2 linked regions of the Homo sapiens genome follow. The protein of the gene in region 1 binds, or shares a complex with, the protein of each later gene. Each region holds a gene or a part of one and is shown on either strand. Other genes may lie near its edges.

Evidence for each region.
Region 2: ISY1 (region 1) and PRPF19 share a complex: the UniProt entries of both Homo sapiens proteins name them as parts of the XAB2 complex.

Annotation. Positions count from the first base shown.
Region 1 is NC_000003.12:129,136,963-129,140,773, forward strand, and holds part of ISY1 (pre-mRNA-splicing factor ISY1 homolog), read right to left. Parts: intron 3,524-3,811; coding exon 3,406-3,523; intron 235-3,405; coding exon of another isoform or gene 169-234; intron 1-168. Other genes in the region: ISY1-RAB43 protein, read right to left, coding at 3,406-3,523. UniProt on the Homo sapiens protein: Component of the spliceosome C complex required for the selective processing of microRNAs during embryonic stem cell differentiation. Required for the biogenesis of all miRNAs from the pri-miR-17-92 primary transcript except miR-92a.
Region 2 is NC_000011.10:60,899,885-60,903,695, forward strand, and holds part of PRPF19 (pre-mRNA-processing factor 19), read right to left. Parts: intron 3,652-3,811; coding exon 3,575-3,651; intron 2,998-3,574; coding exon 2,856-2,997; intron 2,773-2,855; coding exon 2,699-2,772; intron 2,582-2,698; coding exon 2,519-2,581; intron 1,657-2,518; coding exon 1,615-1,656; intron 1,486-1,614; coding exon 1,411-1,485; intron 1,046-1,410; coding exon 970-1,045; intron 808-969; coding exon 698-807; intron 1-697. UniProt on the Homo sapiens protein: Ubiquitin-protein ligase which is a core component of several complexes mainly involved pre-mRNA splicing and DNA repair. Required for pre-mRNA splicing as component of the spliceosome.

The sequences.
Region 1 (3,811 bases):
CAGTTCACTGCAAGCTCCGCCTCCTGGGTTCACGCCATTCTCCTGCCTCAGCCTCCCAAGTAGCTGGGATTACAGGTGCCCGCCACCATGCCCAGCTAATTTTTTGTATTTTTTTTTAGCAGAGACGGGGTTTCACCATGTTAGCCAGGATGGTCTTGATCTCCTGACCTTGTGATCCGCCCGCCTCAGCCTCCCAAAGTGCTGGGATTACAGGCATGAGCCACCGCACCTGGCCTAAAAAAATAAAAAAATTTTTAAGGCCGGAAAGGAACATACCAAACAGATAATAATGGTTATCAGTTACCTCTAGGAGGGGCACTGGGATGAGTGTAGAGGTAAGAGGACTTTAACTCTATCTGTGCTATTTGAATTATAACCAGTAAAATTCACTTATGCATTTTCTTTCTAAAACAAAAATCTTTTCAATAGATGACAAAAAAGGAAAAATAAATTTAAAAACCCAAAACTCTATCACTGGAATAAGCAAAAATATATTTAGAAAAATGTAAATGCAAAAAACCTAACATATAGAGCATAATCACAATATAGGAGCCACCCCAACACAACCCTTTAGAAACTGGAAGGAACAGCCAGGCGAGGTGGCTCACTCCTGTAATCCTAGCGCTTTGGGAGGCCGAGGTGGGCAGATCATGACATCAAGCGTTTGAGACCGGCCGGGAGCAGTGGGATGTTATCCCAGCACTTTGGGAGGCCGAGGCGGGCGGATCACGAGGTCAGGAGATAGAGACCATCCTGGCTAACACGGTGAAACCCCGTCTCTACTAAAAAAATACAAAAACTTTGCCGGGCGTGGTGGCGGTCACCTATAGTCCCAGCTACTCGGGAGGCTGAGGCAGGAGAATGGCGTAAACCCGGGAGGCAGAGCTTACAGCAGTGTGCCGAGATCGCATCACTGCACTCCAGCCTGGGCAACACAGCAAGACTCCATGTCAAAAAAAAAAAAAAAAAAAAAACTCGAGACCACCCTGGCCAACATAGGGAAACCCTGTCTCCACTAAAAATACAAATTAGTACTGGGCACAGTGGCTCACGCCTGTAATCCCAGCATTTTGGGAGACCAAGGCGGGCGGATCACAAGGTCAGGAGATTGAGACCATCCTGGTTAACATGGTGAAACCCCGTCTCTACTAAAAAAACACAAAAACTTTGCCGGGCATGGTGGCGGGCGCCTATAGTACCAGCTACTCAGGAGCCTGAGGCAGGAGAATGGCGTGAACCTGGGAGGCAGAGCTTGCAGCAGTAAGCCGAGATTGCGTCACTGTACTCCAGCCTGGGCAACAGAGCAAAACTCCATCTCAAAAAAAAAAGAGCTCGAGACCACCCTGGCACCAACACAGTGAAACCCTGTCTCTACTAAAAATACAAATTAGTACTGGTCACGGTGGCTCACGCCTGTAATCCCAGCACTTTGGGAAGCTGAGGCAGGTGGATCACGAGGTCAGGAGATCGAGACCATCCTGGCTAACACGGTGAAACCCCGTCTCTACTAAAAATACAAAAAAAAAATAAAATTAGCTGGGCATGGTGGCAGATGCCTGTAGTCCCAGCTACTCAGGAGGCTGAGGCAGGAGAATGGTGTGAACCCAGGAGGTGGAGCTTGCAGTGAGCCAAGATTGGGCCACTGTACTCCAGCCTTGGTGACAGAGCGAGACTCCATCTCAAAAACAAAAAAAAGATACAAATTAGCTGGGCATGGTGGCATGCGCCTGTAGTCCCAGCTACTTGGGAGGCTGAGGCAGGAGAATTACTTGAACCCGGGAGGCAGAGGTTGCAGTGAGCCGAGATTGCACAACTACACTCCAGCCTGCGCAACAGAGCAAGACTCCATCTCAAAAAAAAAAAAAGAAAGAAAGAAAGAAAGAAACTGGAGGGAACAATGCCCTAATGTATTAACAATCATCACATATGAGGTGTGAAAATGTGAGTGGTTTTTTTCTGATTTTCTGTATTTTATAACTTTTTTTTGTTTGAGATGGAGTCCTGCTCTGCTGCCCAGGCTGGAGCGCAGTGGGACGATCTCGGCTCACTGCAACCTCTGCCTCCCAGGTTCAAGTGATTCTCCTGCCTCAGCCTCCTGAGTAGCTGGGATTACAGGTGCCTGCCATATGCCCAGCTAATTTTTTTTGTATTTTTAGTAGAGACAGGGTTTCACCATGTTGGCCAGGCTGGTCTCGAACTCCTGACCTTGTGATTCTCCCGCCTCAGGCTCCCAAAGTGCTGGGATTACAGGCATGAGCCACTGCGCCTGGCTATAACTCCTCTGTAGTAAAAAATATATTCCTTCATAATTAATGGCACAATATTTAAACTCTGAATTATTTTTAAGGGATGGTAGTGGCCTATGCAAAACTAGCTGTGGAATAATGAATTTTAAAATAAGCAGCATTTAATAAAAATAGAACTATATTTTTTTTAAAATAGAAAAGCCAACTAGAAGGAGATATAACAAAATGCTAATAATGGTGAAAATACTGGCATCATTCTTCTCTGCCTCTCATACTTTTTCCTATGAAGTGTTGACTACCTTTCTAAAACACAAAATCAAAACCGACTAAAACTCCAGACTAACAGTTTCAAATTATATTCAGGAGGTTTGGCTGAAAGAAGGAGGAAAGGTGGGTGTGCCCTATTTGGATTCACACAAAAGTAGCTCCACTTTTCTCCTTTTTTTTTTTTGAGATGGAGTTTCGCTCTTGCTGTCCAGGCTGGAGTGCAATGGCACGATCTCGGCTCACCGCAACCTCCACCCCTCAGATTCAAGCAATTCTCCTGTCTCAGTCTCCTGAGTAGCTGGGAGTACAGGCATGCACCACCATGCCCAGCTAATTTTGTATGTTTAGTGGAGACGGGGTTTCTCCATGTTGGTCAAGCTGGTCTCTAACTCCCTACCTCAGGTGATCCGCCCACCTCAGCCTCCCAAAGTGCTGGGATTACAGGCATGAGCCACAGTGCTGGGCCTCACTTTTCTCCATTTTTACATTTAGGGTTTGGCCCAAGATTGTATTTGTTCTTTGGTTATCATTTGTTCAACTAATAAGTAACTGAAACATGACCTGATTCAATGAACTTCAGAGCCTGCCCCAATCGTTCTGGGAAACTTCAAATAGGGAAACTCCTTGTCCAGACTGACAGATTAGCACCTGCCAAAGGCAGAATCCTGCACCAGCCAATCCTGGGCACACTTTCCAGCCCCAATTGTATGGCATGGGCCTATGATTCTATCCCAGTTCTTAAGAATTCTCAGTTAAAATCTGGGAACAATAATTCCTACACTATAAGGCTGTTATGCAACTAAGAAAAAAAAGTAAGAGCAGTTAGCATATAGCATATCTACTCTTATGATTATTACCAATGAAAGGCTAAAACTGTCACAAACTTACTTACGTTCTTTTTCAAACAGCTCTCTAACACCAGGCAAATCTTTTGCTGCTCCAAAGTACTTGTAACCTCGGTTTCCTGGGACTTCTTTTCCTTCATGATCCAGCATTTTAGGGCCAACTTTCTTATTGGGAAGAAAAAAAGAGAAAATGGATCTGTTAGTTAGTTAGTTAGTTATTATTTATTTATTTATTTGAGGCGGAGTCTCGCTCTGTTGCCCATTTATTTATTTGAGGTGGAGTCTCGCTCTGTTGCCCAGGCTGGAGTGCAGTAGCACAATCTCACTGCAACCTCCACCTCCTGGGTTCAAGTGATTCTCCTGCCTCAGCCTCCTGAGTAGCTGGGATTACAGGTGCGTGCCACCACGCCTGGCTAATTTTTGTATTTTTAGTAGAGACGGGGTTTCACCATG
Region 2 (3,811 bases), on another chromosome or scaffold:
TATCAATACAATTTCATGAGACCTAACTATTAATACCCCATAAGCAAGAAAACAGTGCTCTCAATTTGAACAAATTTAGTCATGAAAAATTCACCATGTTATTCTTATATTTCTCATTTCCCTAAGGTCCAAGGGAAATCTTGACTGCGAAGCACTAAACCAACCATGTCCTGCAGCCCCAAACCCAAACTGTCTTAGGCTTAAAATTCGAATCCCATAATATCATTAATCTGGTCCCATGAGTTACCTTTACCCTGTAAACCAGAGGTTCTGTTTACAACCTACACCACTTTCAACAGTCAACATGATTTTTACCCATCTTGGAGGATCATGGGAAAGCAGATATATCTGTCCTCCTCGTAAGTGTGAGTTGAGATTGTGTTGAGCTTTGTTTTCTGTAGTTTATATTAGGAACACTATAAGATTTTTTCTTTCCCTAATATGAAATATTTCAATGAATATGCTTGTCAAACTACACATTTCCGTTCTCTCCCTGGCTGGAAGATCACTGCTTTAGAAGGTCTCACGCAGAGTGAAGGGCAATCTCCACAACTCCAAAGTGAGCCCCTCCAAGTGCCCACTCAGGAGTCAGAGTCAGAGCTCTTTCCCAGCCCCACTTCACAGAGACAGCAGCGGGGTGAGGGACAAACAACAGCCAAGGAAAGAAGAACCAAGGGTGGCGAGGAGAACCCCTTACCTGGGAAGGGTGAAACACCACGCTGGTGACCTTCTTGGTATGGCCTTTGAGGGTAGCCAGGATTTGTTCAGAACTTTTGTCAAACACAACGACATTTTTATCCGCCCCACCTGGAGAAGACCCAAAAAGACCAAACAATGAGTCAGGCCCACCCAGGCCCTTTTGCTCAAGGAAATGCTTTTGTTCCCATGCCCATGAAGAGGACAAGGAGCATGCGCCTTCCCTGCTGCCCCTCCCCACTTTGGCCTGCCGGGCTAGGCCCAGACTCTCACCAGTGAGGATCTTGTTGGTGTCGGACGGGCAGAGGTCCAGGGCCAGGATCCCAGGAATGCTGGCACTGTGCAACCCCTTTGCAGAGAGACACACCAAACCCTGTCACGGCCAAATCACAGCAGGCCACAAAGCCACAGACCTCCCCTACTGCCATCTCCAGTCACCCATGTTCTCAGGGGAGCAAGAGTTACTTCTATTCCTTATCCATACCTCTTGGCTATCTGCCTGGTACGGTAACTCCCTCACTGCATCACTAGGAAACCCACAGCTGGGCAGAAAGAGGAGCCCTGACAACTCAGCAGCCCAGGCGAGAAACAGCACCAGGAACAGCGCCAGGAACCTGGGACAGCTCTGCACTCAGCACTCCCCATGCTGGCCCGCCCACCCCAGAAACAAAACGGGAGGGCTGTCTCCAAGACAGTGGAGACCCAGACACTCACCACGTGGGATGCCACCTGCCGGTATTTGCTGAGCTCTTCTGGCTTCACCAGCTCCTCAGGCACAGTCTTCCCTCTCTGAGAAAATGAAAAGCCCCCAAAGAAGAGCAGCAATGAATCCAAGATTCAGCCGCCCTCTCTCTCCTAAGGAGTCAACCGCCTCCCACCAGGCCAGCTCTTTCTCCAGGCTTCAGAAAGAGAACTCACCTTCTTGCGCTCCGTGGTTAGCACAGTGGCTTTGTCTTGAAGCTGGGGAAGAACAGGCTCAATGTGAGACAAATCATCTTGCAAGGAGAAAAGTACATTAGATGCTGGTCACACCTGTGCTTTCAAAAGCAGCACCAAGAACTTGCTATCTGCCAACTTCTACGTTACAGGCTTAAAGGCATTCTCTCTTCTTACTTCCATCCCAGCTTTATGAGGGGGGTGTTGATGACCTTATTTTACAGCTGAGGAAACTGAGCCTCAGAGAAGTGAAGTCAATTGCCCAAGGTCGCAGAGGTGATAAACAGCAGAGCAAGAATAGAAGCTAGGACTGTAGAGCTCCCATAGGTCTACACGCCACTAAGCCAAGGGCTCAGACACATGCTGACAATTTGAACTGCTCAGAAAGACACTAAGAAGCCCTGCAAATGAGAATCCCACTGGACTTGCAATCAGGAAGCCCAGCTCTGCCTCTCAGATGTGTCTTTCATCTGCAAAATAAGGATTATAATTCCTATCCTATTGCCCTCATAGAAAAAAAACAAGAAAATATATAAAAGTAGTTTACTATCTGCAAAGAATCTCAATAACAATAAGAGCTAAAAGGTGCACTTATCAGTAATGAAATCTTTTAAATTCCCACAGCCTGCCTATACAGTGGATATGATCATATTCTCAGTTTAGAAGCTAGGGAAATGAGACACGTAAGGGTTGGCTAAGTAAGCCAAGGTCATAAAGCTTACAAGTAGTGGCATCAAAATACAAACCCAGGCAATCTGGTCCCAGGGTCCATGCTCTGCACCACTCAACTCCCAAAAGCACAGTGATTTTAGTCACGATGGACTCCAGACAGATGGTGAAAAGTAAGGGCCCATCAGCACTCCCACCAGGTGAGAGCAGGACTTACCTTCTGAATAATCTCTGGGGTCATTCCCACCAGCTCACCCAAATCCATTGGCTCACCCGCACCCTGAAGAGAAGAAAGGTGAGGGTGAGAGGCACAGAGCACCAAAGACACCTGCATAAGGACAGTTCTGTGGGCCACTGTACACAAATGGGCTGCTGGTAAGGGAAGGGGGACACTTACCACAACACTTGGTTGGGAACTTGGCACAGCCTGGGGCACAATGAGGCCAGCCTGTGGTTTCAGGGTAGCCAGAGCTGAGAGAAAAGACGATGTTAGAAATGGGATATTACAATGCAGAACCAGCCCAGGGTGGGGGATGGCAGGGGAGAGGCTGCACCTTCTCGGGCAGCAGTGACTTCCTTGGTGAGACGGGCAATGACACGGCAGGCGGCATCGTGCTGGTACAGAGCGTGTGACAGCTCTTGGCGGGTTGTCTGCAGCTGCTGGCGCAGAGTGAAGCTGTGCAGCATGACTGCATCCTGGGAGAAGCAAATATCATTGTAAGGTGAGGTGGGGGGTGCAGGGAGTACCCAGTGGAGTCAGCCCTTGGGGAGGGGATGCTGCCTCCTATCCCAGAGCCTAGACCAGTATCAGTGACCCAAACAATATCCGAGCAAACACGAATGTGCCGGCAGACACTCTTGAGCTCCTACCCCAAGCGAACCACTGGGCACACAGACAGGAGTGGGAGCCAGCTCTTTCCCATCCCCACCTTCCCTAACTTACTGGCAAATCCCAGCTGTCATGCCGTCCCCTCTCTAAAAGAGAATAACAACACTGCTGCTGCTGCTATTTATTGATCGCCCTCGTTGTGTCAGGCACTGTGCCAGACAGTCCTGCAGGATGTATTCAATCATTCAATTCATAACTCTAGAGCACCTACTATGTACCAGGTGCTGCTCTCAGTGCTGGGGATACAACGAAGAATAAAACAAATCCCTGATGTCACAAAGTTTACCCTCTAAATAATGCTCCATCCTTCCTACCCCCAAGTCCTAACCCAGCAATGCATTCTCTTCAAGTGGGGAAGATGCTGATTCTCTTGCAGGAACTCACCCACTCATCCTGCAAAGCTTTCAGAATGGCCGGGATGCTGGTGGCTGAGGGAGGCTTGGGCCGGATTGGGTGAGCAACTGCCGAAAGGGAAAGCAGGTATGAAGAACATAACCCAGGGGCCTCCCCCGCCATCACATCTTTTCCTTTTAGCCATAAACAGCCCACCATCTCTTCCTCCAGTGCACTGGCACCACCTCCCATCCTCTCAGGCTCTGAGCTAAGATGGCCCTAGACTAA